Regions from separate parts of the Homo sapiens genome. Here all the other regions are linked to region 1. Evidence: fine-mapped expression QTL. A gene starts in region 1. Each other region holds a variant in brackets. All regions are shown on one strand. Distances are between the middles of the regions.

Region 1 (7,757 bases):
GAGATATCAATATATGTGTATAATTTGTAGCCCCCAGAATGGGCTGTGTGCGAGCCCTCATCTGTGCTTTTGCTCTCTGTCTCCTTTGTTAATAATGCTTTCCTTTCCCACCTGTATTTATCTAGACAAGCATAAAACTCCTATCCTTGTGAGGGTTTCCTGGCCTAACTCCCTACTTGAAGTTCCTCTGTCACTCTTGTGTAATTAGCATATTATGTGGAATTTATATTTTGGTGTTGGTCTTGTTTCTTAATGGACTTAACTTTTCTGGGGCATAATTTATTAAATCTCTATTCTTCATCTATTACAGATCTGGGCATACTGAAGTTAATCAAACTAGTGCTAAGTGAATGAGTGAATGGAATCCTTCAGGAAAATGTCAAGATTAGAATTCAGACCACACCAAATCCTCATCTGCCATTCTTACTACGCCACATCACAACCCGTGAGGCACGTAGAGTATAGAATAGAAATATTGAACAGGCACAATTAAGGAAAGGGAGGGTGAATTCAAGAATAACTTTTCAAACAATGTTCCTAAGAGAAATAGAAGACTTAACTTAGAAGGTTCAAGAAAACTGTCTACATAAATACAGTATTGCATAGAAGGACTGAGTCGCTTTGGACCTGATTCCTATAATATGAGAGCACAGGCTGATCAGGAACAGTAGGGATATTTATGGAGTTCAGTTTGCCTTCCATGTTATTGTCACTCTGTGCACTAAGCTCAGACTCAGACCTGGCATTCAGGACCTCCATGCATGGCGTTGGTCCATATTTCCCTGCCACATGTCACTCCCCTCTTCTTCCTTCATGCAGCCCATGCTGCAGTGAGGCTGATGGGCTTGCTCTGAACATGACCATGTGTTTCTTCCTCTGATGATTCCCTTGCTTCAAATGCTCTTTCCTGCGGCCTTACTCTTTGTCCGAGCCTCAGCATCTCCACCTGTTGAAGCATTTTTGGCTCTTTCCAAGGCCTTTCTCAAAATGCTTCCTTCACAAAGAGGCTTTTCTGGTCATATAAATGCAAACCTCTTTGCAGAGCACTTTGGATGTGCCAAATAAATGTGTAGAAGAGGTATTAGTCCAGTAACTAGGATCACGGATTGGGAGAGCTGCATTGCCTAGGTCCGAATACTCATTCTGTCACTTACTAATGGTTTGAATGTAGGCAAATTACTTAATGTCTGCACCTGTGTTTCCTTGTCTGTCAAATAAGAATGACCAGAATAGTATCAACCACAGAGGCTTTTGTCAGGATTGTGTGCAACAGTGAGTGTAAACTGTTTAGAATTGTGCCTCATATGTGGAAGTGTTCTGTAAATGTTCTCTTTGCTTTCCCACACAACCTAGCCCTGTTTCTGGTTATGGTTATGTTTGTAGACCAAAATCACTAAATGAGGGTGAGTGCTGTCCATAAGCAGTGTTGCCATCGATAAAATCTAGATGTTTTACCAATAGAACTCCCAAGGAACCTGAGGAAACTCTCTCACTACTGGAGTCCTCAGCTCTATTGAACCAGGTTTGTGGAAAATAATTTTCCATGGACATCTGATTTTTATAAAAGCTTTTAATGTTCTTAAGGACTTACATATTTTCCTGTTCAAGTTTAGCTTAAATATTGTAGCAGCATGACCTGATTTATTTGATGGGGTAAGTTTGTGTACAGTTTCTCCTCTAGCTGTTAATCAGTTACACACTCATCTCAATCCCACAACGGTGCAAGAGTTGCCAAGTGCATTCAGGAACCCAGCCAAAAGGAAACTGCAAATATTGCCAGTGATAAACAGGAGAATGAATTACTTCTTTCTCACCTGCCCAGGAGCACTGATATAGTTTCACCACGTCACATACTAACACTCCTCAACCTCCATCAGTTGAGATGAAATTTGGAATATGCTTGTTTTATATTTTTTTCTGTACTAAATATATAATTACTGCCTAGTAAGGCTGTTAAATGTTCAGTTAGGTTTTTTTGAGGTATAATTTTTTATTGAGGTATGATTTTTAAATTTGTTATATCTCTTCATTGAGATATAATTCACATTTCATAAAATTCACCCTTTTAAAGTATAGAGTTCAGTGAGGTTTAGTATGTTCACAAATTTTTGAAGCCATCAGTAGTTCTAGAACATTTTTATTACCCCCCCCATAAACCCTTTACTCCTTATATTTTGACCTTGTGATAAAATGTTAATTTTATTTTCATTTATTTGGTTAAATTGTGCTAGCAAATTTTTGAAACCAAGAGAACTACATATATATATACACACACACACACACATACACACACACGTACATATATATTTTGTAATTACTATTACAATGGGTTTACTTAGCTTACTTTTTATGTTTATCCTATACTTCACTATTTGCTCAAGGTTTTACACATACAACATATACACACACACACATGCACACATTGATCTTGGTCACATTAGGGTTATTTGGGTCAGGTTGGAGATATCATTGCCAATGTAGCTTGAGGGACAGACAGTGGACATGGTGAAGGTAAAAATAACTATCTTTTGTGGAACACCTATTATTTCCCAGGCACTCTTTCTTAAAAGTCTGTTTTAGGACGTAGGTTCTATTATCATCATCTTTATGTTACATGTGAGGAAATAGAGGAGAATGGAGTTTGTATAACTTGTTATATCCCAAGGTAGCACAACGACCACCTAGTACAGTCCAAATTTGAACTCAGGCCTTCCAAATTTAGTGTATATGCCCTTAGCCACTATGTCCTAACACCTACTGTTCAAATGCACATTTAGTTTAATAATCCTAACAGCACTTGATCAGTGCTGTACAATGTACTTTCACAATGATCTCATTCCATTCTCTCAAAAGTCCTGTCGGGCGGTACCAGATGAGAAGAGCCGGTTCCTATAGTTAAATGATCACACAGCAAGGCCAGTGCAGACAAGCAGCTGGAATACAGGTATTTTGCCAGAGCTAGGGTAGGGGTGTGTTTCTCTACACCACATTGGGACTTCTGACAGTTTTCTTAGACTTCTGTTCCATCTCTTATAATAACAATCCACTTTCTATCATATTTGTTTGGATGTTTGAATCCTTACATCAACACGAGGGTAGCAAATATGACTTAACTTTTTTAGGTAGTCCCTGTGCTCAGGCACTGTTTATTGAATAAATGTGTAAACAAATTAAAAAAGAGTCTGGCCATATAGTCATTTGAATATTTTATTTCTAGACTTCCTTAAGTGTTGAACCATCAATATTTTAGTGAAAGGAGACTACATAGACTAGTTTGATGATACCTTTGTTCTTTTTCTACATGTGTTTCAAAAAAGTAAACTTAATTTCACATACACTTTAAATAGAATTTTTTTTGCATATACAAGGAAATGTGATTACAAATACCTTTTGAAGAGGATTAGTGATAATCTGTACCTTTTGTAAGCAAAATGAATGAGAGTACTATTAGAAACCTGTGGATTGAAGCTTTCATTCATCAAAGAAAATCTGCAGCTCTGTGCGCTTCCGCTCAACCCAATTCCTTAGGTCCTCTGAATAAAGCAGTGACCTGGGAGTTCTTGCACCCGCTCCTCACTCCTGAGAAGGGTCCTGCCAACTCTGTATTGTCCTGTTGGATTTGCAGTCAGAAGTCTGAGGCTGGCAGGCACTGGGCAGGCAATGAGTTCTTTCCCTGTAAGTTGGGCACAAAAAGATCGGCATGGGAGCAGCCTCCTTTGAGACAGCTGCTCTGAGAGAATGCAATAAGCAGGGAGCAGCCAGCAATTCCTCCTAGCAGAGGGCGACTCGTGGGAGGAGTTCAGTTTGCCAAGTATTGTCATTTGTTGAGAGAAGGTGTGTGCTCAAGGAGGAGTTTTAACCTGGAGGATCATTAACTCTTTTAGTCAGCTGAGGAGCTGCGGTGGCTCGGCGAGTTGGAGTTCATCCTGGAAGCGTCTGCACGACAAGGTCAGGGAGGAGGTGTGGAATAACTTTTTCATGGGACACTTTGAGAAGGGCCAGCACGCTCTGCTCAATGAAGGAGAAGAGAATGAGATGGTAAGATTCTAGCCACATTCCCTTCTTCCCATCCCACTTCTCAGCCTGCGAGACACACACACACACACACACACACACACACACACGCACGCATCACACACACACAGACTTTTCTAAAATTTCACTCTGGTATTACACGAGAAAAGGTCATGTTTGAGAAATCTCTCTATCCTGTAAATATAACCTCTGACAGCAGAAATTTGCTAGAATGAAAATATTGTATTCATCTTGTCAAGAATGTTTTCTTTTTAAAGAAAACAGAGAGGGAGAGAAGCACCATGCACTTTATGATTCTTGTTTGAGCCTCATTGGTATAGCCAGTTCTGTTCAAAACACCTAACAATTTTAGGAAATCCCTAATGTGAGGAGCAGTGTATTCCCTGATAGGAAGAAGCAGAAGTTCAGCAGTGAAGCAGAAGTGCAGCTGGGTCTTTGACCTTCTCTTCTCAAATGTCTTGTTCACCGAGTCTGTTGGACAGGGAAGACATGCAATATTAACAATTATCAGCCTACACACATTTCTGTTTTCTTCTAGAATTTTACTTTTGTGGCTTCCTCATTATAGAGATTGGTTACAGAAAACTTTCGGTAGTTCAGTATCTCTTTGATTTTAGATGTGCTTCTATCTTGAGAACTATAGGAAAATCAAAGATGACTTTCATGCTCAGGATGAATTTAAAACTGTATTTCTCAATTACAATATAATCAAGAGAGAGTTAGAAATATGTACTTCTGTTTAATAAGATCTTTCTGCTAATTGTGTAAGCATAGTCTTTTATGCCAGTAATGATGTAATTAAAATGTTAAAATGTGACGCTCTCATTCCATAATAGCATTTAATCTTCCTGGAATTAATATGTAAATAACAAACCTGAAAGATATTTACTTAAAATGTTTTCTTGGTTAATTGCTTTAGCCCTGACTATTACATTCTTTGTTCCTAAACTGGTCTTTCAAGTCTAATCTGCTTACCTGTTCCTATAGCAACAACATTTTTTGGACTTTCAAGAGTAGATCCCTTCTGCTATCAAAGCTGAAAAAATTATAAAGAAGTAAAATGTACATTAATTCAGGTGCCTTTCTTAACCATATCCTTTACTTCATTCAGATTTGACTGCCAAATGAATTGCCTTCAGCCCCTCCACAAATGTCACCAGAAATGGCTTGCTAGCCCACATTGGATATCATCTTTGTTTCTTTAAAGAGTTTTCTTTAGGAAGTGAATATCTCATTACTCTCGATATTAAGTTGAAAAGTTTATCTTCATCTTGAATACTCTTCACCAGAAGGCAGGGGCTCCTTCCTCTGAAACATTTTTTTTCTCTCTCATTTAGAAATACACTCACTCTTTTCCAGTAAACCCCTTTCTGCTCTCAGACAATTTGTCTTTCAAGTCTCAATAAGAATCATTTATTTTCCAGAAGACATTCATGGTTGTAGGGAAACTGTTACCTCTTCCCTAGCATACATATTCCACCAAAGCAATTTAGTTAACAGTTCATCTTCATAATGGCACCATCAGATGCATGGAGAACTCCACGTAGTTTTGTATGCAGCTGAAAGCCCAGTTAGGAGAGGCCCTTTAATATGGAAAGGGACACTGTGTTTTCTGGTAGGCAGCCATTTGGCCAGTAGTCTCAGCAGAGGTGCAGCAATTAGTATGCACTCCTGAGCTCTCCATCCTCTTCTGCCTACAGAAACCTGGCCACCTGCCTGTTGCTGTGTCTGACACTGTGTTCCTTTTTAACTCACTCCTCCATCCCTTGCCCAGAGCAGTAAACTTTAAAAATTATCAAGCTATATATATAGTCTACATATTTTGTAGTGATTTTTAGTATACACAGCATTTTCTTGGCCACTAGCTAATTTAGTTTTCCTCACAACCCTATGAGGTAGATGCTGTGATTCTAACTTTAAAGATGAGGAAATTGATGCACACAGGCTTTCCCTAAGGTTGCATCAACCAGTAAGTCCAGGAGCTGAGGCACCGCACAGGTTAGTTTAAGTTGACAGCTCTTTTGTCTCTGGACCTGAACATAGCCCACTGATACCTTTTCCAGTTCTTCCGGAGAACATTCCACTCTTAACAGAACACATTCCCTTCCTTCATAAAACAAAGCTAAGGAGAACATCAACATCCAGTCTTCTTAGATTCCCCAGCATCTGTTCTGTTATAGATAATTTGAGTTTCTTTTTTCTTCTAGATAATTCGAGTAGCTTAAATAAGTCTGTCTTCTCTGACTTCCAAGTCCAGAAATGTGTCACACCAAAGTGTTTAGTTTCATGCTTTATAATATACTTTACTTGAACCTTTGCAAACGTAATTTCTCTTGTGGTAGAAATTACTTCAAATTTCAAGAGAAAACAACATGCTAGGGTTTAGACCTCATGTCAAATAAAGAAGAATATTCTGAGGCCTAAAGATGCCTGGGATTATCTTCCATTTTGGAGTTAAAAAACCAAAAACAGGCTGGGCATGGTGGCTCGTGCCTGTAATCCCAGCACTTTGGGAGGCCGAGGCGGGCGGATCACCAAGTCAAGAGATTGAGACCATCCTGGCCAACATGGTGAAACCCCATCTCTACTAAAAACACAAAAATTAGCTAGGCAGGGTGGCGTGCACCTGTAGTCCCAGCTACTTGGGAGGCTGAGGCAGGAGTATGGCGTGAACCTGGGAGGCAGAGGTTGCAGTGAGCCAAGATCGCGCCATGGCACTCCAGCCTGGCAACAGAGCAAGACTCTGTCTCAAAAATAAGTAAATAGATAAAAATAAATAAATAAACAAGTAACAAACCAAAAGCAAACAGGAACTAAAGAGCAACCCTAGGTGACCTGAAAATAATATCTTTAACTGCGAAATGAGACAGGACCCAAAGGTAGAAAGAAGCTTTTGGAGGGAGAAGGAAGGAAAGGTGAGAAAGTGGCCTTCAGCGAAGGTTCACCTAAATGACTGCCTCAGAAAGGCTTCGAGGAGGAAACTCTGGGAGAGCACTGGGACGGGACGGGAGGCCTGGCTCTCACCGGCCTTGGGCCAGCCGCTTGCCTGCTCTAGCCTCAGTTTTTATACCTGTAAAATAGGACTGGTCCTTCTTACCCCCACCAGACTCACAGAGTTCTCATGAAGATCAGTGGAGATAATCCATATAAACATGTTTTGAGAAGTAAACAGTTCTGGCGAGGTGTGAGCTGCTATCATCTAAATAAAGGTAGGAAAAGCCAAGGGCTTAGCAATTAACCAATTGAGTAAATACTATCCCACAAAAATGAGGTCATCTCTTGCCATTCAGTTATACCAAAAGGAATATGTACTTTTTTTTTTTCTTTTTGTTACACGGAGTCTTGCTCTGTTGCCAGGCTGGAGTGCAGTGGCGTGATCTCGGCTCACTGCAACCTCTGCCTCCTGGGTTCAAGTGTTTCTCCTGCTTCAGCCTCCCGAGTACCTGGGACTACAGCTGCATGCCACCATGCCTGGCTAATTTTTTGTATTTTTAGAAGAGATGGTGTTTCACCGTGTTGGCCAGGATGGTCTTAATCTCTTGACCTTGTGATCCACCTGCCTCAGCCTCCCAAAGTGCTGGGATTATGGGCATGAGCCACCGCACCTGGCCAGGAATATGTACTTTTATTCATAGGCCGTAGAGACCACTTATAAATGGAGAGGAGCTGGGTTATCTTCTACTTACCTTGTGCATACGTTGGGAAAACACCTACCTTTTTTA
Region 2 (7,757 bases), 38 kb after region 1:
AGCACTCATTCAAGAAACCTAGACTTAGAGATTAACTTGATGTAATGCAAATGATGTGACTAGTTTAACATTTCCTAATGACCAAAGGCACAGAGCAGCATCTGGGAGTTGCTATGTTTTCTCCTTCCTCCCCTCAGTGGACTGATTTTATTTTTAGTGTCCAGGGAGATAATACAGTTAAATTTGTTGGGCTAGGAACAAGGAGAGTACGGGTTTATTAACTTCCCTTCCCTCCTTCTCTCTTGCCCTTCATCCCTCTCTCCCTCCCTTTCCCACCTTTGTCTCCTTCCTTTATTCTTTCCTTTAATATAGCCACTCATTTATATATTGATTGATTCAGCAAGTATTTATTGAGTGCCCACTACATGCAGATAATGTATGTGATGCTGGGTAAACAACGTGGGAGGAAAAAACTTGAATTGATCCTACTATGACATAAATTAAAGCCTCGTTGTAGGGGAGCAGAAAGGAGGAAACAGAAAAGCAAGCAAAAAATAGAAATTGCAGGCCAGGTGCGGTGGTTCACGCCTGTAATCCCAGCACTTTTGGAGCCTGAGGCGGCTGGATCACCTGAGGTCGGGAGTTCGAGACCAGCCTGGCCAACATGGTGAAACCTCGTCTGTACTAAAAATACAAAAATTAGCTGGGCACAGTGACGGGCGCCTGTAATCCCAGCTACTCAGGAGGCTGAGGCAGGAGAATCACTGGAACGCAGGAGGTAGAGGCTGCAGTGAGCCGAGATTGCGCCACTGCACTCCAGCCTGGGTGACAGAGTCAGAGCAAGATTCTGTCTAAAAAAAAAAAAAAAAAAAAAAAAAAAAAAATTACAAATTGCAAATTGTGAAAATTCTACAAAAGTATTATAAAGGGCACATGAGATTAAGGGCTTAATTATATAGGATGGTTGGCTGAGACCTCTCTGAAAAGCAAATATTTAAAGGAGACTGAAAGAATGAGAAATAGCAAGCCATGGGAAGACCATGAGGCAGGAAAGGGCTGGGTGAATTCAACAAAATGGAAAGAGTCCTCGTGGCTGGTACAGAGTGATATAGAGGGAAAGTGGTCCAAGATGGAGTTGGAGAGGAAGGCAGGTGGTAGATCACATGGGCAATCTGCTTTCTGTCTTAGTACCTCAGTTTCCTTATCTGTGAAATGATTTGTTGGGCTGCATTGCAACCATTACCTACTTTGTTGGTCATTTAGTATTAAGTGTCAATCCTCTTTTACCATGGGTTTCAAAATCAAAATTTTCTAGTTCTTTGGGTGCTGAAGATGTCATCCTAGGCACTAGGACCTAAAGATCTGCCTAGTTTAGGTGGGAGGAAACTAAAATGCCTAAAGCAGGTTTTATCAATCTTGGCACTATTTTGGACCAGATAATTTTTTTCTTGTGGAGGGTGGAGGTAGGAGAATGTCCTCTGCATTGTGGGGTGCTTAGAAGCATTCCTGCCTCTGAGCACCAGATGCCAGAAGTTGGGTGACCCAAAAATATCTCCAGACATTGCCAAATGTACCCTGGGAGACAAACTCTCCCTTGGTTGAGAACCACTAGTTTACAGGGTGAGACTGTAGCTCCAATGAGCAGGTCTGGCATGAGATGTGAGATGGAACCTAACATATAGCCTCAGTGTTGGGGAAAAAAGAAAGCAAGGCAGGAACCACAGAAAAGAAGTGGGCACCTGCTCATTTAGAGGGGGCATATGGTACTTGCTCTGGCTGGTTCTTTTTTCTCCTAAGACTTGAGGTACTCACAATTAGATTGTCCATAATCTTTGGTTCGTGACACACTCATATTATTTGCCCATGTTGTGTTGCATTAATTTGGTTAGCTACTTTATTAGTTCTTTATAATAATGTGCTGAACCCATCACCACAAACAAAAGCTAGGACTTTGACAATAATCTGCATGTAACAGTATGGCCTCTCATTCCTCTGCCTTTCCCCAACAGAGGCAGCCACTGTACTAAATCATGTGTTCATCATTCCCTTGCTTTCCTTCCTATATGGTTTTCTTTTATCTAGATATATCCCCCAAATAATTGAAATGCTAGCAGTTTTTAACTTTATAAAAAGGTTATGATGCTATTACAATCCTTTGCACTGACTTTCTTCACTTCCTATTCTATTACTAAGAGTCATCCATATTGATGTGTGTTGCTGGAGCTCATACATTTGAAGTGCTGTATTAAATCTCATTGTGTGGACACACCACAGTACATCTCACTCACTGATGGCATCTGGGTTATTTTCTGGGTTATATTACACATGGTTTTTTTTGCTCTCCAACTGATTACTGCAGTGCAAGAATGTGGGAACAATATTGTCACCATTTTAATTTATTTTAAGGAAAAAGTAGAAATCTTAATTTTTATGTGAAAATAACTGGGGGACAAATTTAAAGTTTTAAGAAATACCTAACAGGTAAAAAAGAAATGAGACTGTAGGTCATTCCTTTTGAGCCTCCAGTTTAAGATTTCTAGATTAGGTCATTCATGTTGAGAATTTTTCACCTGAATCTATAAGTCAAATTAACTTGGAAGAAACTTAGAAAAATGTTCTTTAGTATTTAAGAGTGGCAAAGAAGAAACTGTACAGAGGCAAGGATTTTAATAGGTGTCCAGATTGGATGAGCAGCGAGGTAAATCCATTGAAATGCATTCATTTAAAACAGTCGGTTGTAGGCCGGGCGTGGTGGCTCCCAGCACTTTGGGAGGCTGAGGCGGGCAGATCACGAGGTCAGGAGATGAGACCATCCTGGCCAACACGGTGAAACCCCGTCTCTACTAAAAAAATACAAAAAAAATTAGCCGGGCGTGGTGGCGGGCGCCTGTAGTCCCAGCTACTCGGGAGGCTGAGGCAGGAGAATGGCGTGAACCCGGGAGGCGGAGCTTGCAGTGAGCCGAGATCGCGCCACTGTACTCCAGCCTGGGCGACAGAGCGAAACTCCGTCTCAAAATAAAATAAAATAAAACAAAACAGTTGGTTGTAGTGCCTGGAAATTACAGTGAAGCATTCGCTTCACACCCACCTACTCCTGTTGTCCCAGTGTTATTATTAATAGCACCCCATTCAGGTGACAATTTATATGGTTATCTCTCCATGTAACCCTTTATTGCTCTAACCTTGTTTAATCTTAGCTGTTTGTGTGACTCTCTTCTCTACTAAACTAATGAGCTCCTTGAGACTGGAGATATTGTCTTATTTATCTCTGCGTCTAGCACATGCCTGCCATTTGGTGGACATGTAACAAACATTTGTTAAATTGAACTGAAATAAAAGAATAAAGAAGAGCATAGGAGTAGAAATGGCCAGCCCACATCATCTTCCATGTGCTGCAGAGGTCTAGACTGGAGGCCCAGTTTTGAGTTAGTTATGAGCTTTGTGGCTTGGGAAACTAATTTAATCTTTTTCAACTAAATGGGAGAATATGTATCATGTGCTTAGTGAAAGGCTATTAAGTGCCCAATAAGTGTTAGCTGCTAGCACTGTTATCAATAATTAGTTGTTAATAATCACTATTATTACTATTAAAGGTATTATAGTAACTTTGAACTTTAGTTTTCTTAATGGGGAATTAAGATAATAATTTTTGTTTACTTTATGTTGGCAATGAACACAAAGACACTTTGGAAACTGTAGAGAGCCCTCACTGCGTAGCCCAAAAAAGAATGCATAGTAACAGAGAGGTTTTTGCTATAGAACCGAGTAACTCAGGCATATTACATGGGGGCTCAACTGACTGGCAATATAAGGAAACTTTTAAATATAATATTTTAAAAAGATGAAAAAATGGCTGAGTCGGAAGGTACAAATTGATCTATGCCAAAGTGTTGAAACATAGAAAAAGCACATGGGAAAGAATGGTAGCTGGACTCAGGACAAGTAAGGAAATTAAGACTAGGGCACTGCTCTGTGTGGGATTAAGAGAGCATTGCTGCCAGTGTGTTGAGGGGACAGAGCCATTCTAGGCTTGGCATCTGGAGAGCAATGGCTTGAGCTTGGAGCAGAAGAGTATTCATGTCAGAATCTACATTCTACTTTGCAAAATTAGTTAAGAGATTGTATTTCTGAGTTAATGAGAACATTTTATCAGTTATGCCAAATTTGGACAATGCCTAAGAAAGCCATTCGGCACCTGTATGTGTTGCTAATAGTAGAAAGGAATCTAATGTTTACACACAAAAGCAACCTTCAGCCAAGCATCACAGAACCTTTCCTGGCAATGTAATCTTTATCAGGTGAGATAAAGAAGTTGATAGATTTAAAGTTTTATGTTCCAACTCCCTTGTTATCCTAAGAGACAATTCTAGCAA[G/A]AGCAGAACTGTTGACACTAGGAATTCTTGTACCTAACTGCCAATAAACTGGTGGATAGAATTTCAGGTCTATTTCAGAGACATGTGATCAAGTAATAGCAGCAACAGCCGTAGTAAATGCTTACATAGGGCAACAACCCTGTCATGTGGGTGCTATTACTATCCCATTTTATGGAAGACAAACTGAGGAATAAAGAGGTTAAATAATGTACTGAAAAATCACACGCCCAGTAAGTGGCAGAGCTAGTCTCTGAACCCAAAGAGTCTTGGTCTGGAGAATGTGCTTTTAACCAGGACACTCTACTACCTCTCAATTTTAGCTGTCATAACCAGTGTAAAGTATACCCATGACTTTGTGGGATAAAGTTGTGGGACTAAGACCATAAACTTCAGGGATGGTTTTCTATTCTATCTCAGGATTTCCTTGGAAGGAAGACGTTTGTCTAGATTATATATTTATTAGAGGTGAGACTCTTATCTTGTCTTGTATGTATCCTCTGGGGTCTAATAATATCCTCTCATGACGCATTGGTGCTCAGTAGAATGAGATGAAGTAAACCAAATAGTCCCTATGGTGTTTTCCTCTTGACATAAAATTGTTTGTTGATGAATGAGGAAGGAACATGGGAAGGCACAACTCTACCCCAAACTCCCAAGGGCAAGCTGGCATTTACTTGTTAATCCTCTTATGGTCAAATACTTTCACCCAATCCTGACTCAGATTTCAAGGCCTGGTTCTTTTCTCTCCCTCTCCTGTGTCTGCTGATCCCAGCCAAGGGAATCTCTTGGTGCTGCTGTCAGCTCGCCAGCTGACAGACCTGGATTGGAATCTTAGCAGTGGGACATTCTAGCTGTGCGGCCTTGGGCACATCATCCCATTCTGCCACTCTAAGCTCAGTCCCACCATGTATGAAATGAGGATGATTATCTCACTTCAGGGAAAACACAGGGATAGGCATGATTGGGAGAGTTAAACAAGACAGCACATCTAAACACCTAGCACAGTGCTTGGCACAGGGTATCTAGGTGCTCAAATGATAGAAACTGATTTCCTAGTTAGACTGTGACTTCCTTGCTTCCTGGGATCATGTCTTACACTTCTTTGTCAAGATTTCCTCTCCACTCTCTCCATGCCTCACCCTGCCCTCTCCTCACCCTCCTCAACTCCTTCACTCTGCCCCCATTTCCATCACTAAAATCAGTATTTGTTCATTTATTGTTTATTGTGCTTAACCAATATTTGGTATCATTTTGATTCTGTCCCAGGAGATATTTGGCTATCGGACTCAAGGCTGCCGGAAAAGTCTCTGCCTTGCCGGATCCATCTTCTCATTTGGAATCCTCCCCTTGGTGTTTTACTGGAGACCAGCATGGCACGTATGGGCACATTGTGTCCCATGTTCCTTGCAAGAAGCAGACACTGTGTTGCTGAGGACAACGGTAAGTGTGTACCTGGTTATGTCGCTGGTGCCCCCCTTTTGTTTCTGGACAATGTGTTACGGGATGGCTGGGGGGAGATGTGCACAAGACAGATAGCAGGTGGAGGCTCCAGTCTTTGGTTCCTTAGGTTTCATCACAGCCTTGCATCTAGCAGGATTTCACTAATTTGTGTATGGTCAATAGCAAAGACATGGAACAAACCTAAATGCCCATCAGTGATAGACTGGATAAATAAAATGTGGTACATGTACACCACGGAATACTCTGCAGCCATAATAAAGAACGAAATCATGTCCTTTTCAGGACATGGATGGAGCTGAAGCCATTATCCTTAGCAAACTAACGCAGGAACAGAAAATCAAATACCGCATGTTGTCACTTATAAGTGGGAGCTAAATGATAACACATGGACACATAGAAGGGAACAACACATACGGGGGTCTGTCAGAAGGTGGAGGCTGGGAAGAGGGAGAGGATCAGGGAAAACAATTAATGGGTACTAAGCTTAATACATGGGTAACAAAATAATCTATACAACAAACCCCCATGAAGCAAGTTTACTCATATAACAAACCTGCACATGTTCCCCGATCTTAAAATACAAGTTAAATTAAAAATTGTGGATGGTGAGGTTTGATCAAGAAGAGCGATTTCACAAGATATTTCTTTTAAAGTTGTGAGTTTCGTGAATGCTAGAGCAGGGAACAACCACATGTTAATAGCTAAAAATAACAGGAAATGTGAAGTAGTCAAGTCAGGCTATAGGCTACTAAGTTCACACTGACCGTTCCTCTCGATTCCTGACATATCCCACTCCCTGCACTGGAGTGACTCCTGAGGAAAAGAAGGGAAGGGGTGGGGAGCATCACTCTGAGGAGGATGCTGTCTGTCCCAGCTGATTGATGAGAGCATGTCACATTCTGCAGATACACTAGGGTAAAAAGTGCAGCCATCTTGCCCTTGAGGCCATTGCCTCTCTCTGTTAATAAAAGCCTCTGGCTTTGGGTGAGTTTCCCTGTATTTCCTTCCATACCAATTCCTTGCAGCACTCATGGCACTCGGACAATGTGCATCATCCCTGCGGGACTGTCAGCTTCTCAAAGGAAGTGAGCATTTCTAACGTGTTAATTGCTGCACCCCCAGTTCCTGCATGTGGTAGCGATTCTGTTACTATGTGGTGGCTGACAGGCTGAAGTGGATGTTTCTATTAAAGAGAGTGGAAGGACAGTCTCCTAGAGGACTCTCTTCTAGTTGACTTTTACTGAGTGTTTATAAGAATGCATCAGCCCATGGCCCCGAATGACAACCAAATTGTTGATAAATCAAACTCTGTTGGGAGTTTAGCTTCCTTTTATATATTACAATCTCTCTAGATACATATTCTATTTAATGCAGTAAGAGAGAAGGATAGCAATCAGCCTTATAACTGGCCAAAAAGAAATCTAACAGAGGTGAGGCTAAACTCCAATGAAACTGAGAACTGGAGGAAGTTGGTCTTTGTTGACTTGCTCCATTGGGGCCAGCCTCACCTTTCATTTCTGGATCTTGGTCCCTTCAAGAAATACTTGTTCTATGTTCTAGCTTAGCTGATATGTGAGCCATGATACAGGTAATAGCTGAGGCATCTTCTCACAAGTTCAACTATAATTTTACTAGAGACTCTTGGAGAATAAGCTTTAAGACTTTAAGGAAGCAAGAGGTTATTGTGGAATAAGAGCAAGTGATATTGGTGATGTTGAGCTGGAGCTGTGCTTCGTTGATGCCTCGTGTCATCCTTCCTGAAGACTCACAGGATGTGCACAAAAGAAAAGTGCCCGGCACCCCACATAAGACTTCTTCATTTGATGGGTGAGGAAATGGGGCTAGGGAGGTGACACAATTTCCCCTAGCTCACGTGTGAGTGAGGGGCCTCACCAGGACTAAGTCCCATGAGTCCTGGCTCCTAGTCAAGGGCTTTTCCATTGCACTGTACTTAGACCAGGGTTCACACACTTCAACTGGCAT
Region 3 (7,757 bases), 140 kb after region 1:
GTGCTGACAAGGGCATTTTTACCTTGTTCTGATCTTAAGACAAAGTTCTCAGTCTTTTACCCTTGAGTATGATGTTAGCTGTGGGTTTTTAAATTACATAAAATGTAATTATGGAGATGACATGAAACATTCTAAATTTATAACAGTGTAGTTTGAATTAACACCTTCACTTTAATAGCATGAAAACAACTGCTCCTTTGCAGCGTTATCTCCCCTTTTATATTGTTGATGTTACAAATTACATCTTTTTCCATTGTGTACTAAATAACATGGATATATAAAGTGAAATTGCAAACCAAAAATACACAAATATCAGCATTTATATTTGCTGATAGCTGATATAGTTACCTTTACTAGACATCATTATTTCTACGTAAGTGTTTGAGTAGCTATCTTGTATTCTTTCATTTCAATCTGAGCCCTTTAGCATTTCTTTTAGGGTAGGGTTACTGATAACAAACTCTTTCAGCTTCTGTTTATCTGGGATGTCTTAATTTCTCCCTCGATTTTGAAGGACAGTTTTGCCAGGTATACAATTCTTAGTCAATAGTTTTTTTCTTTTTCTTTCAGCATCTTAAATGTTATCCCTTGACTTCTGGCTTCCATGGTTTCTGATGAGAAATTGGCTGCTAATCTTACTGAAGATCCCTTATAGGTGATGTGTCACTTATCCCTCACTGCTTTCAAGATTCTTTGTCTTTGTTTTGTTTTGTTTTTTAATAGCTCAAATATGATGTCTTGATGTGAATCTCATTGGGTTTGACCTATTGTAATTACTTGTACTTCTTGGATATGCAGATTTATGCCTTTCATCAAATTTGGGAAGTTTTCTGCCATTATTTCTTATTCTTTTTGTCTCTTTCTCTTCTCTCCTTCCGATACTCCCACAACGTACATGTTGGTCTGCTTGTTTGTGTTATACATGCCCTTTAGGCTCTGTTCATTTTTGTTTATCATTTTTTTTTCTGTTCCTCAGGTTGGATATTTTCAACTATCCTACCTTCAAGTTCACTGATTCTTTCTTCTGCCTGCTCAAGTTTGCTGTTGAGCAGCAAACTGCCTGCTCAAGTCTGCTGAAGTTTGCAAGTTTGCTGTTTTCACTTAACTTACAGTACTTTTCAGCTTCAGAATTTCTTTTGACTCCTTTTTATAATTTTTATCTTTTTACTGACATTCTCATTTTGATCATACATTGTTTTCCTAATTTCCTTTAGTTCTTTGCCCGTGGTTTCCCTTAGTTATTTCAGCATATTTAAGATAGTTGTTTTAAAGTCTTTACCTAATAAGTCTAATATCTGTGCTTCCTCAGGGACAAATTCTGTCCATTTATTTTGCTCTGTTGAATATTATAATGCTCTAACTCTGAAAATTAGATTCTTCTCCTATTTTAGGGTTTGAATTTTTTGTTTCACTCTTTGTTGAAGGCTGTAATAGTCCATTTGTTTAGTGACTTTCCAAAGCTTTTTTTGGAAAGACTGTACTAGTTTTCATGTGAGATCGCATATGTCCCTGTTCCTTCAGCTTTTGTTCAGCTAATGTTTTGATAGAGATTTGCTTGACCTCTAGGAGTGAAAAAACAAACAAACAAACAAACAAAACCTTCTCCAGTCCTTACAGATTATTTCTGTGCTGGAGTACTTATTCAACACTTTGCCAGGCTTACACTGAGTCTGGAGATAATCCAGAGCTGAAGGCTTTGGGTTTTCTCTGGTCTTTACTGAGCATGTACTATGCCCTGGGATGCACATAGCTTTTGCCCTGGGCATTTACATAGCATTCTACATTTCCCAGCATACACAGATGCTTTAGACTGCCCTAATTCCTCCAAGGAAATTTCCTTAGCTTTTCTTCCAGGCTTTAGATGGTTATTTTATGTATCAACTGTAATTTTTTTGCCCTAGGCAACTGCATTTGTTAGCCTAATAATGTTTTCAAGCAATGTGCACTGCTTTTCTGCCCAGAGTGAGTTCTGTGTTAGGTGGAACAGAGATGAGTGCCTGCATCAATCCTTCAGGTAGTTCCCAGACAGGTTGGGACAGACATATGTAACAATTTGTAAATAAGGCCTGCTATGCTCCTTTTGTAACCAGGGACCAGGGTCTCCCTCTGGGAATGCAGGCTATCTTCAGGATTGTCACTAAGCTGAGTAGGGGGTGGATCAAGTGCAAGTAGAAATGCCACAAAACTTTCCTGTGATCCTAAAGTTGTCTTTTTCTTGATTCAGTGTTCACTTGGTTGCAGTATACTTTTCTGTTTTTCAGATTTTCAGATTTCTGACAGTTTCTGCTTGTATTTTGATATTTCTGTGGAGATGTGGGAACTTGGAGCTGCCTACTTCACCATTTTGCTGGATATCACCTATTATTTGTCATTAAGTGTTTTAAAGCATTGCTGTTTAGTGACTACATGTTGTTCCATTGTATAGATGTACCATAACTTATTGTAAATGATGCCATAATGAATATTTTTTCACATCTCTGATTAACTTTTTTAGCTTAGGATAAATTTCCAAAAGTAGAATAACTATGTCGAAAGTTATGAACATTTTTCAGTCTCTTCACATTTATTGCCAAATTGCCCTGCAGAAGGTTTGCATCAATTTATTTTCCCACAAGCAATATATGAGAGAGTATATTTCATCCCTCCCTTCTCTGTAATTTAATAGTTTTTCCCTATTTATAAGGCCAAAAGTGACATCTTGTGGCTTTGTCTGCTCTTTTAAGAATTCTTTACATGACTTGAATTTGAGTCCATTAATTGTTTTATTCCCTCAGTTTGTGATGTACTCCAGTTTGTCCATTTCCTCAAATGTATGGGCCAATGAACTTATGCCATTCTTCTGATCAAGAATACATTTTCCTGCTCTCATAAATATAAAATTCGAATTTATTTTATAGTGAATCTGAATGGTGCCTACCCTAAGCTGGTGCCTTTCAGACCTGCAGGACGGCTGATCTCTCCACCTCTGCTACTCTCTGTGATTTTCAACATTCTTCTCAGCCTGGCCATGCATATTGCAGGCTTCATCCTGGTTCAGAGGCAGCCTTGGTATTCCGTGGAGATACACAGGTATGAGTATAGTCTCAGCTTCTGCTTCTCACATTCTAATTTCTATCAAACATCCTCTGGCCAATATGATGGGAGGCACATGGGTCTTCATTCTGCCAAAGGTTTTGGCTTTTTAAAGTCCCTTGGGCAAATTTTCAGTGATTATTTCTTCTCTGTAGCATGATTTAATGCTAATGAATGTATCATTCATTCATTAGCACTTATCTTTGTCTGTCTTATATGATAATGATCTATGACCATCTTTGATATCTAGGGTGACCATGGATTATAATTTGCCTGAGCAGCCCCAGTTTAAGTAGCCCACTTTAAATTAAGTGATGTCCCAGTGAAATTATTAACATCTTTCCTTTTCACCTTCAAAACTATCTTTGTTAGTTAAGTTATATATTCAACTCACTTACAAATTATCAGAGATTTGTTGTTGTTGTTTATCGGGGGAACCTGCCCCCAATATTTCAACATAGGTTCTAATTTCCCTAAGTGTCTGCTGGCTGAGAAATAAAGAGAAAGAGTACAAAGAGAGGAATTTTGCAGTTGGGCCTCCGTGGTGACATCACATATCGGTAGGACCGTGATGCCCATCTGAGCTGCAAAAACAGCAGGTTTTTATTAAGGACTCCAAAAGGGGAGGGGGTGTATGAACAGGGAGTAGGTCACAAAGATCACATGCTTCTGAGGCCAATAAAGATCACAAGGCAAAGGGCAAAGCAAAGATCACAAGGCAAAGGGTGAAATCAAAAGCTCCTGATAAAGGTCTATGTTCAGCTGTGCATATATTGTCTTGATAAACATCTTAAGCAACAGAAAACAGGGTTCAAGAGCAGAGAACCAGTCTGACCTCAAATTCACCAGGGTGGGGTTTTTTCCCCCATCCTAATAAGCCTGAGGGTACTGCAGGAGATCAGGGTGTATTTCAGTCCTTATCTCAACCACATAAGACAGACACTCCCAGAGCGGCCATTTATTGACCTCCCTCCAGGAATGCATTCCTTCCCCCCAGGATATTAACTATTAATATTCCTTGCTAGGAAAAGAATTCAACGGTCTCTTCCCTACTTGCATGTCCATTTATAGGCTCTCTGCAAGAAGAAAAATATGGCTCTATTCTGCCTGACCCTGTAGGCAGTCAGCCCTTATGGTTGTCTTCCCTTGTTCCCTAAAATTGCTGTTATTCTGTTCTTTTTCAAGGTGCACTGATTTCATATTGTTCAAACACACATGTTTTACAATCAATTTGTACAATAGTGGTCCTGAGGTGACGTACATTCTCAGCTTACGAAGATAACAGGATTAAGAGACTAAAGTAAGACAGGCATAAGAAATTATAAGAGTATTATTTGGGAACTGATAAATGTCCATGAAATTTTCACAGTTTATGTTCAGATATTGCAGTAAAGACAGGCATAGGAAATTATAAAAGTATTAATTTTGGGAACTGATAAATGTCCATATTAAAATGAAATCTTCACAATTTATGTTCCTCTGCCAGAGCTCCAGCCAGTCCCTCTGTTCAAAGTCCCTGACTTCCTGCAACAGTTGTCGTTGTTGCTGTTATAGAGATGGAGTCTCTCTCTGTTGCCCAGGGTGGAGTGCAGTGGTGTGTTCTAGGCTCACTGCAACCTCTGCCTTTGGATTCAAGCAATTATCCTGCCTCAGCCTCCCCAGTAGCTGAGATTATAGGCACATGCTGCCATGTGCAGCTAATTTTTTTGTATTTTTAGTAGAGATGGTGTTTCACCATGT[G/T]GGCCAGGCTGGTCTCAAACTTCTGGCCTCAAGTGAACCACCTCGGCCTCCTAGGGATTACAGGTGTAAGCCACCACACTTGGCCAAATTATCAGAGATATTAAGCCACTTGAGGGAGGAATCATGATTTACCAATCTCTTTCCCATATAGCCTTAATGAATGTGCATAATTTGTTGAATACATAATTGGCTGAATCTCTCTCTCTGTCTCTCTCTCTCTCTCTCAATGTATCCAAAATACGGGTCTATCTGTGCTTGTTGATTTTTTCCCCTATTTTTCAGTGTGTGTGTGTGTGTGTGTGTGTGTGTGTGTGTGTGTGTGTGTGTGTTTTCCAAAGCACAGGCAATTGTAGAAGCATTGAGTGCCTGCTCTGGACACTGTTTGGTATGGAATCTTCTGGATACAAATGCTCCATAAAGCCTTGCAATCTTACTTCATTAGCTTCTTTGGTTTTCCCTTTTAGTGCCTGCACAGTACAAAATGAAAGCATCTCAGAGTTAACCATGTCTCCAACTGCTCCAGAAAAAATGGAAAGTAATAGCACCTTCACAAGTTTTGAGAACACTACAGTCTGGTTCTTGGGAACAATCAACTGTATCACTGTGGCTCTTGTGTTCTCTAAAGGAAAACCATTTAGACAGCCAACTTATACAAACTGTGAGTAGAACTGTACTGCATCAGAGGTGAGAAGTCATCAGAGAGGGGAACAGACATGTCCAGGTCACTTAGGGAACAGCTTTAGAGTTGATTCTTATCTAGCATCTCTTGACTTCCACTCTAGGACTCTGCAAAACACATCGTACAGCCTCATTTTCACGGTTCTTTGCTCTTTCCTTCAAAGCTACATTAAATACTAGGGCTTCTTTCTCCCTTTCCTTCGCCAGAAGTTTGCCTCTGGGTGTCTTTCTTGGGATCACTCCAAATTGAAAAGACCAATTTATTTCTCTACTTGTCAGTACTTGTCAGAATTCACCCTGGAAACAGTGGAGAGAAGCGTAACAGAACTCAAGTGGATCCTGTCTCTTGCCATGAAGGCAATAGTCAGGGTGGCATTGTGTGGTGGCAGGCTGCTAGTGGGTCCAGCCTGGAGGAACCTGACTAGAGAGGGTTATGGAGGCTCTCGGCCAGAGTACCTCCCTCCTACTTCCTTACATTCTGGAGTAGGAAGGTATGTTTGGATGAGAAATGAGTGACCTGTTTAATCTTCAAGACATTTATTTGTATATCATCACTACTCTTCTTATTGAAAAAATTCAAAGCCCAAATTGAGTTCCTTTATGAATATTTTCATAAAAATTTATTTGTTCAGAGAAAATTATTTAGCTTTTCTTCTTCCTGGGATGAGGAAGCAGCTAAATACTGACCTCTATATGATAACAATTTAAAAATTGGTTTATTGACAGGCTTCCTTTTTACCAGAAAATGATTTGAGGTAGATAATTTGCATTAAAGTGACTCAGATACTTGGATGTCTTCAAGGCATTTATTGAACATGTATTTTGTCAATGTTACCCTATGTATATCTACTACTTTTATTAATTGAAACTTAAAATGTGCATGTGAAAATTTTCACTTGCTTCAAGGACATGCATAGAAATTAAAGAGGTGAGACCCATTGCTTAGAAATGAATACTTTCCATCTAGTATTTGGATGTAGAAATCAAGTAAATTAAATCAGTGTTAATCTAGAATACATCCGTCAATATATGTGACATTTTTCACTCTGATTTCTCAAAATAATACCTTGTGTTCTTATTTCCTCAGATATATTTGTCCTTGTGCTGATAATACAGCTTGGTGTATGTCTATTCATTCTATTTGCTGATATACCAGAATTATATAGACGTTTGGATGTAAGTCTAATCTTTGGGATATGATGATGCTTTACAGTTATGTAACAGTTTAACTTTAAAAAGCAGATCACAATTTCAATTGACATGATTTTTGACACAAATTATTCTTTTGGGATGGCAGAGCTAAAAAAAATGCTAAATTTATCTATATTTTTTATTTAAACTGGTCAAGAAATAAAATTCTACCCAGTTTTGATTTCATGAGATTAAAGACAGCCTTTAAGTATTGAATACTTTAATTTTGTTTTCTTCTTATTATTTAAGAGACAGGATCTCACTTTGTTGCCCAGTCTGGAGTGCCATGGTGCAATCGTAGTTCACTATAGCCTCAAATTTCTGAGCTCAAGCAATTCTCCCACTTCAGCCTCCCGAGTAGCTAGGACTGCAGAAGTGTGCCATGATGCCCAGCTAATTTTTTAAAAAAAAATTTTTGTAGAGATGAGGGCTTGCTATGTTGCCCAGGCTGGTCTCAAACTCCTGGCCTCAAGCTAGCCTCCTGCCTTGGCCTCCCAACGCGCTAGGCTTACAGGCTTAAGCCACTGCATCTAACCAAATATTTTTATTTTAAAAGATCTCCTATGAGAAAATGTTTTTCTATATTTTCTCTTTCAAATATGAGAGAATTTTTTCCTAATTGCTTCTTTTTTTGAAGTTGTTTAAAACTGTTTTGCCTATAGCTTTTTTTTTGGTTATCATATATTTATGTATTTTTTTACGGCTTTAAAAATGTTTTCTGTGTGTTCATACTTAATGTCTGTAAAACTCACTTTCCAAGAGCCATATTTTTCCTCATAAACTCTCTTATATTTTATAATATTGATACAGCTGTAAAAACCTACAAGATACCAAAAGTTTACATATCCAAGCCAGGGAAAAACATATTTTGATCCCCTTAACCTATCCTACTTTTATTACAATTTAATCACGGCTAAATGATCTTTAGATCAAGAAATGCAATATTGAAGAGATGACTAAAGAAACAGCTCTTTTAATTGAGTGCTTTGTATATCTGGTTGCCTCTCCATCTCAAAGATGAGTCTCATGAGGTCCAACAGTGTATCTTATTCATTCTTGTATTACCAGTGCCTTCC
Region 4 (7,757 bases), 52 kb after region 1:
AGTCCAGGTCAAACACTGGTCCTTTGTATACATTCGACTTTTGAAATGCACTCTTGAATTTTTGTAAAACCTATTTTTTTAGAGTTCAAGGACTGATCCGGTTAATATTTTTGATAAAGAGGAGGTAAAGCCTTCTCAATGAGACCTGAGGTGTAAAAAGTCCAGATTTGCCAGGCAAGCACTTTGCATTATTTGCATTATAAACCAATTATTTAAAATGGTAGCTCCTCTGGTACATTTAAGTATTTTACAAATCATTACCTGCTTTGAAGAGAGCTGGGAAACAGACTAAAGTAGAAGAAGCCATTTACAGGCAAAGATGCTGCTTTTCCAAAAAGGAAAAATTGAGAGACTTTTAGAGTTTCCTCAAAGGGAGAATAAGTTCCTACTTACAGAAAGAACTCAGAAACAACATGCTATGAAAAATGAGGCACAGAGCCATACCATTTGTTGCCTCCCTGCTATGGGCCAAACCTTAGATCAGACACATTATGTATACTTCATTTAATCCTTCAAACATCCATGAAATTTGGTATTACTTCCATTTTCTAAATAAAGAAAATTAGCTTCAGACAGTTGTAAGACAGTTTAGAGCTGGGATTTGAGTTCAGGCCTCAAGCCTGTGCTCTTGCCATATTGGACAACCCCAAAATGAAAACTGAGAAGTCAATGATTTTGCCTGAAGTGACCACTTCACACTGGTGTACTTTCCTTCCATTTCTTTGCTTTTTTTCCTTAAAAAGCTGGGTGATTTGACAGAGTCCTCAACAGGGTAGTATACAAGAGAGAAGTCAGTGTCACTCCCCTACTCTAAGCAAAAGGGTCATCTAGCTGTCCTATCTTTTATTTTTTCTACTTTGTATCATACAGAATTATGTATGATACATAATTAGTAGAATTATTTTATTCTACTTTGTATCATACAGAATTATGAGTATTGGGATTGGGAGTAAATGGGGATGTTAGGAAATGAGCTTAAAGGCAAATATATCCAAGTACCTTTGATTTGATAATATTATGAGCTATAAGAAGAGATAGGTGTATAGATGAATGTCAGTTTTTAATACACACCTAGACTAAGGCATACAGTTAGTTGGTGCACTGGATTAATATGGCCTTTGAGAACCTGGACACTTTGCTTTTCCCTCTTTAGGCATTACAGTCTGGAGGTCTGTCTGCTGTCACACAGGGCCAGAGGGTGACAGCTTGATTTCAGGAATTAGATTCTATGCTGTCAGGAGAGCAGAGATTGTGAGAAACTGGATACTATTTGTCAGTTGGTACAGAATTCAAGGTGATTTTTACATGCAAGCCATAGACACCATGGGACAACTTGTTGAAATAAAGAGGAAGGGACCAAGATTTGGAATGGAAAGATCTGGACTCAGGTCTCAGTTTTATTCCTACTACCAGTTTCAGACTGGCTTGAGCAATTCTTAGCCTTGCTGGTGGTTAGTTTTCTCATCTGCAAAATGGAGATAATTATAATACCAACACTGGAGAATTGTAAGCCTAAAATAAGATAACATAACAAAATTTCTACAAACTGCTATGTAATCATATGAAAATTATGAAACTGCTAGGTAAACATATGAAAGTTGTTAATATTATTTTAATTCACTGGAGACGATTAATAGTTGCTGTCTTCCTAATTGTCCCTACTTGGTGGCAAGAGGTCTCTGGTCTTGATGGCTCTTTTATAATTTGTGTTCCTATTTACCTACAAATTATACATTTTCTTACCAAATTTTTCATTGAAACTATGTTTTTTAGAAGTTCCAGTTCAGGCTCGACATAAAAATGGCAGTCCAATCAAATTATATTTTTTAGCAAAATGTAGAATAAAGTGGAAGGTTAGAGGGGACTCTGGAGGAGGCAAGCAGGAGTGGGGAGGTGACTGTTAAGTGCCTGCTCTAATAGTTACCAAGTATGTCTTTCTTTCCTTGCCAACTAAATGGGAGAATAATTAACTGTAACAATTCCATAGTGTTTTTGACATTAAATGAAATAATACATATGTAGCATTATGTGCTTAGAACATAATAAGTGTGAAATAAATATTAACTGTTATTAGAAATGGAAAGTTCTTACTTAAAAACTGCTTTGATAAAGTCAAAAGCAAAGCTATATAATGCTGAACTGTGTCAAGGTTTGTTCAAGAGAGTTGGTTGCCTACTCTACCATACCTAGACCATGTCTATCATCAGATCGGTGACTTAGTCATTGAAAATTTAGCTCCCTTCCACCATTCTTAGGCTCATCATTCTTAACTCCATACAATTTGATTTGAATTGATTTAGTCACCTTTTTTTTTAAATCCACAGTGTAACAGCCAATTACATTGGCTTTTAAAATTGATTAATTAATTAATATTCCAATTTCTATTAAGGTTATTTTCCCCTCTTGTTGGCTTCCTTCCCTTCTTCATCTCTCTTTCTCTCTCTCTCTCTCTCTCTCACACACACACACACACACACACACATGCACACAGAACCTGTGCTAAGCCTGGCTGAAGTGCAGACATGCATCATACACAATTCCTACCCATAGTCCAAGAGAAGTGGTAAGGTGGATAGGCAAAGGGTAAAATGTGGTAGGAATCTTGAGTATCCTGATGATTTAGAGGAGAGATCACCCAGAGTAATTAGGGAGGTTCTCAGGACATAAACTCTGAGCTGGACCCTGAAGGATGGTAGAATCCAGCCATGTAAAGACTTAAGGAGAAGAGAGAAGAATGTGTACTACAGGCTAAGGAAGCAGCAGGAGCAAAGGCATACAGACGGTCTTCTCTTAGGAGGATGAATATAAGAGATTAGCTACAATGATTGTATCTTCCCCTCTCTGCCTTTTGCAGAGTCAGCTAGGGCACTCTTCATAGCAAAAATGGGTGTGGTGGTGGAGACAATTTCCAGCTCTGACCTACATTTCCCAAGCATCAAATTTTTCCCACGTTTGACTTTTTCTGTTATACTTCTTGAATCCTGAGGTTTGTCAGTCATCTGAGTGGGTTTTATGTTTAGTATTTCCCTATTCAGACAATAACCACTGTCAAATAGGTCTCTAAGGGACCATTGTGGTATCTGTTTCTCAATCCTGTGCTTCTCCCTCTAATTTTACTCTGTGTGAAGTAATCAGTGAACTGCAAATGGAAGCAATTTTAATTAGGGTCATGCAATAAGGTGCCTTCTTCAACCCCACCTGTGCTAACATCTTGGCAATTACCTTGGGCAGGTTCAGTCCATGGATTCAGTTTTTTTCTTCCATTCTTCAGACTCTGACTGAGCAGGTCTCAGTGCTCCACATGAATGGGAGATAAGGAACAATAAAACGTGATCCCTGCATTCCAGGTAGTCTAGAAGGACTAGAAAAAGTGATTAAGAGCACAAGAGAGGGACACTTAACATTTTTTTGGAGTTAACAAAGTGATAGTTCCCCCCCCTGCCCCGCCCCGGTGGAAGGGTGTTAATGAGGCTGTTCTGTAGGAGGTGGAATTTGAGTTAAGCCTTGAAAGATGGGGATGGTCATCAGGTCATGGGCTGAAAGGTGGTTGAAAGGTGATGCAGTGAACTAGTTCTTACCTGCGAATGAGCCTCCTGATTCTCAAGCTTTGTTATGTGTC[A/C]GTGCCTCATCTTCATATCCAGATTCCTCAGTCAGTGATGACAGGTCTTTTTCCCTCAAGGTTCTAGATCCATCATCTTTCAGAGACAAACCGTTCTGTCTAGAATATTCACTAACGCCAAACACTTACAGAATTATATTAAAATGATGTTTCTCAGGTTGAATTGTAGCCTGCTGACCTCTCTTAACTTCTTGGGGGTTTTGATGTCTATCTCCTCAGGATGAATTCCAAATTTACTCTTGGAAAAAGGTAATATGGATCTACCTGTCAGCATTAAACAGCGCATTTGGTCTCACTCCTGACCACCCTCTCATGACAGATGAGGAGTATATCATAAATAGAGCCATAAGAAAGCCAGACCTAAAGGTAAGTAAACTTATGGCTACTGCTGATGTCAGAGAGATTTAATCTTTTTCCCCTCAAGTATATAGTTAAATGTAGCTCCTCTACTGTGCCAATCCTCATTTGATAGTGTATATTTAAAATGTGAACTTTGGAGCCAGACAGTCCAAATCTCAGCTTGCTCCTTCTAAATAGCGCAACCATTGATCTTAACTCTGCTGAGCCTGTTTTCTCATCTACAAAATGATGATAATAATGTCTATTTCTAATATTAATTGATAAAATTCAATAAATTTAGAAATACAAAGATTAAAGTAGTTCCAGGTATATAGCAGATGCTCAATACATACTCGCTCTATTTTCTTTTCCTTTTGTTAGAGGTAGGATCTCACTATGTTGCCCAGGCTGGAGTGCAGTGGCTATTCACAGGTGCATGATTATAATACACTACAGCCTCAAACTCCTGGGCTCAAGTGATCCTCCTGCCTCAGCCTCCCTAGTAGCTGGGATTGCAGGCATGTACCGCCCAGCCCAGCTCTTACATATTAGCTCTAATAGTATCGTTCCCCATATTACAATCTATGTAACAGGGTTAATCTTATAGTAAAAGTAATCACCCAGGAATATCCCAGGAGGTTTGCTTATGCCTACAAAAATGACCTTATTTGAATTCTTGTCATTCAAATGTATTTGGGTTGCTCCCTCTTCACCCTATTAAATTAGTTCTGCTTGGATTATGACTAGTTAACATTCATATTAAAAACATTTTATAAGACAGAATGTTTTGTCTTACATTTATGTATGTGTGGTCAGCTGTTTAAATTAGTTTTATGAGCTCAAGTTCAGTTATTTAAAGTAATAAAGTAAATTATGAGCAATTTTCCTATTGTCAATTGTTATCACCCAGTTGTCTTTTTTTTTTTTTTTTTAAATGGAGTTTCACTCTTGTTGCCCAGGGTGGAGTGCAATGGCGCTGTCTTGGCTCACTGCAACCTCCACCTCCCGGGTTCAAGCAATTCTCCTGCCTCAGCCTCCAAAGTAGCTGGGAATACAGGCACCTGCTACCACACCCAGCTAATTTTTGTGTTTTCAGTAGAGACGGAATTTCACCATGTTGGCCAGGCTGGTCTTGAACTCCTGACCTCAGGTGATCCACCAACCTCAGCCTCCCAAAGTGCTGGGATTATAGGGGTGTGCCACTGCACCCCACCCACTCAGCTGTCTTAGCTGCCCAAATAAACAAAAACAAAGGAGGTCAAGTACCTCCAAATAATAGTTTCCCTAATCTGTTAGATGTCCATTCACCTGGAGAAATAAGCTTCCCAGATAGCCTATGTTCTCATAGTTTTATTGCTCTGAAATTCTAGCATCTTTAGTAGCATCAAATAAATAAGTGGACAGATAAATGAAGAAATGGCCAAGTCAACACACAGAATTGTAGGAGGGGCAGAGGTCTTGAAATGGAAAGTTGTGATAGGTGTACTATCTTCATTTACCAGCTACGGCATAGGCAGTTTGGTTAGTTACTGCCTCTCTGGTCTTGAGTTTCTTATTTATAAAATAAAAGTAATACCCCTTCTTTGCCTTTCTCAGGGCTGTTATGAACACACAATGAGACGATGGATATTAAGGTCATTTGTGAACTTCAATGAGCTATGCTAGTAACAAAACTTTCCTTAAAGTCAGAGGAGCTGTCATGGGCTCAGCCTTGATGACAATAACAGCATTACCAAGAGGGTAACCATTTAGGGGCATTTAAAGGAGGGGTCCCCAATCCCCAGGCCACCGATTGGTGCCCTGTCCATGGCCTGTTAGGAACCAGGCCACACAGCAGGAGGTGAGCTGCTGGCAAGCCGGCGAGCATTACCTCCTGAGTTCTGCCTCCTGTCAGGTCAGCAGCAGCATGAGATTCTCATAGGAGTGAAATCCTTAATATTGTGAACTGCGCATGTGAGGGATCTAGGTTACGGTGCTCCTTATGAGAATCTAATGATTGCCTGATGATCCGAAACCATCACCGCATCCCCAAGATTCGTGAAAAAATTCTCTTCCACAAAACCGGTCCTTGGTGCCAAAAAAGGTTGGAGATCGCTGGTTTAAAGGAAGTCTGAAGACTACAGCAAAGAACTATGTCAGGTTTGGAAACAGGCTAAGAGGAGATGCTAAGGACCATCTTGCAGGATTACAGGCAAAGCTAACACCCAGTGCTTAACTTGTTAAACAGGATGCTCTTATAACATGTTCTAACAAGAAATTACAAGCAGAAAGCCCGGGGAGAGGAAATCTTCCTTATTCCTGAGCAGAAAGATGAAATTCACCCCGCAGCAGATACTTGGTTTCCTAATTGCTGTTTCCTGGTCTGAATTTCCAGGAAATAGGCAAATAAACCTCATCTCTTGCAAATATTGTACTTAACATCCTCTTACCAGCTTCCAGAGGCTCTGAGAGTGATGGGGGAAGCAGATAAACTCCTGGCAGAGATGTTTTCTCCTGCGGGAATCTCAAATATGCTCAAAAGGTCTAGGATGGAGCCATTCTTCTCACTCTGTGAGAAATGGCTTAAGAAATTGTCAGAAGATAATGGAATTTTCTATTTTCTGGCCTGAGGTAAAACTTATCAGTAGCCTCTTTATTTCTCATTATTGCTGCGTTCATCTACAGATGTTTCATGTCTATTATGTTTTATACATTTTTCAACCTCAGTGTGTGGTTTCTGCCTCTTGATAAGAGGTTCTCGAACTGATCAGGGGCCTCACATTGGAACCACAATTTGTCCTTTAAAATATTTCTAACACAGATTTTTGCATTTATATAATTAATAAGTAGATAGCCATCACTTTATACAGCTTGAATCCTGAAGTCAATGGATTTTCAGATTTTCCTTTGGGACTAGCTTGAATATGATATCCTTTGAGAGATTGAACTCTGGAGCCAGATGGGCTGGAGTTCAAATTCCTGGGAAGTTACTTAAGCAAAATGAACTTCAGGCGCAAAGTGAAGAGGAAAATAATATCTGCCCTACCACAGGATGATGGAAAAGACTAAACATAACGTGTGAAAAGTCCTAACATGCCCAAAAAATAGTAGCTGTGATTACAATCCTGCTCTATTTGCAAAATTGCAAAGAATACTGAAGAGAAAAGTAAATTGTGAGGCAAGATGCTTGAGATTTCAACATGTGTCATGATGGCTAACACACCCTAGAGCCTGTCATTTACAAATATTTCCTTTGCAGATTGTGAAATCTGCAAATTAGAGAGAGATTGTGTGTCATTCCTACTGGAAATTCACTCTAAATCGGCAATAAGATATACTTTTTAAATGCATTATGTTTCAATCAACCTTGCTGAAATAAATCCATTCTGTAAAATAAAAAAATACAGCATTTTACATGCTATTTGGTAACTTTGAATGTCTGTGTGTGTGTTTGCACACGTGCACATGTGTACCTGTACATACACCTATTGCATAGAGTTAGCATTCATTTTTGGTAACCTAGACCTTAGAGCTAAGGGATTTAAACTGCATTTCTAGTTGACACGGTTTTACAAAGCTTTCATTCATTTATTTAATAAAAAAATGTATTGAGCACTTATTTTGTGCCAGCTATATGGTCTTTCCAGTTTTAAAATGTATCTAATGGTTATAATGACTATAATATTCTTGCACATAGAATACCTAGAGAGAAGCTGAGGTAGAATATAGACATAATCTGTCCAATTGTCTAAATTTATTCATGGGGAAACTGAAGCACAGGAAAATTTAGTTGAAGTTCTCAAATAGGAATCTAGCAGAG

The links. PIP is the estimated chance that this variant, and not a neighbour inherited with it, causes the effect. A credible set is the group of variants that fine-mapping cannot tell apart.
Region 2: its variant is the best candidate, but not a certain one, in a credible set for the expression of ATP13A4 in sun-exposed skin (GTEx, PIP 0.72).
Region 3: its variant is the best candidate, but not a certain one, in a credible set for the expression of ATP13A4 in lung (TOPMed, PIP 0.60).
Region 4: its variant is the best candidate, but not a certain one, in a credible set for the expression of ATP13A4 in unexposed skin (GTEx, PIP 0.63).

Annotation. Positions count from the first base shown.
Region 1 is chr3:193,551,021-193,558,777 of GRCh38, reverse strand. ATP13A4 (ATPase 13A4) reads left to right here and starts at 3,883. Exons shown (of 30, transcript NM_032279.4): 1 at 3,883-4,038. The coding sequence starts at 3,979. ATP13A4-AS1 (ATP13A4 antisense RNA 1) reads right to left here and starts at 5,565. Exons shown (of 2, transcript NR_121666.1): 1 at 5,491-5,565; 2 at 3,194-4,008.
Region 2 is chr3:193,512,694-193,520,450 of GRCh38, reverse strand. ATP13A4 (ATPase 13A4) reads left to right here. Exons shown (of 30, transcript NM_032279.4): 2 at 5,580-5,753. Among named protein-coding and RNA genes, the nearest start is that of ATP13A4-AS1, 37 kb to the left of the region's middle. The variant G/A (reference allele first, on the strand shown) is at 4,314.
Region 3 is chr3:193,409,891-193,417,647 of GRCh38, reverse strand. It overlaps ATP13A4 (ATPase 13A4), which reads left to right. Exons shown (of 30, transcript NM_032279.4): 26 at 2,898-3,069; 27 at 5,277-5,470; 28 at 6,578-6,666. Among named protein-coding and RNA genes, the nearest start is that of ATP13A5, 35 kb to the right of the region's middle. The variant G/T (reference allele first, on the strand shown) is at 4,813.
Region 4 is chr3:193,498,721-193,506,477 of GRCh38, reverse strand. It overlaps ATP13A4 (ATPase 13A4), which reads left to right. Exons shown (of 30, transcript NM_032279.4): 3 at 3,839-3,985. Among named protein-coding and RNA genes, the nearest start is that of ATP13A4-AS1, 51 kb to the left of the region's middle. The variant A/C (reference allele first, on the strand shown) is at 3,620.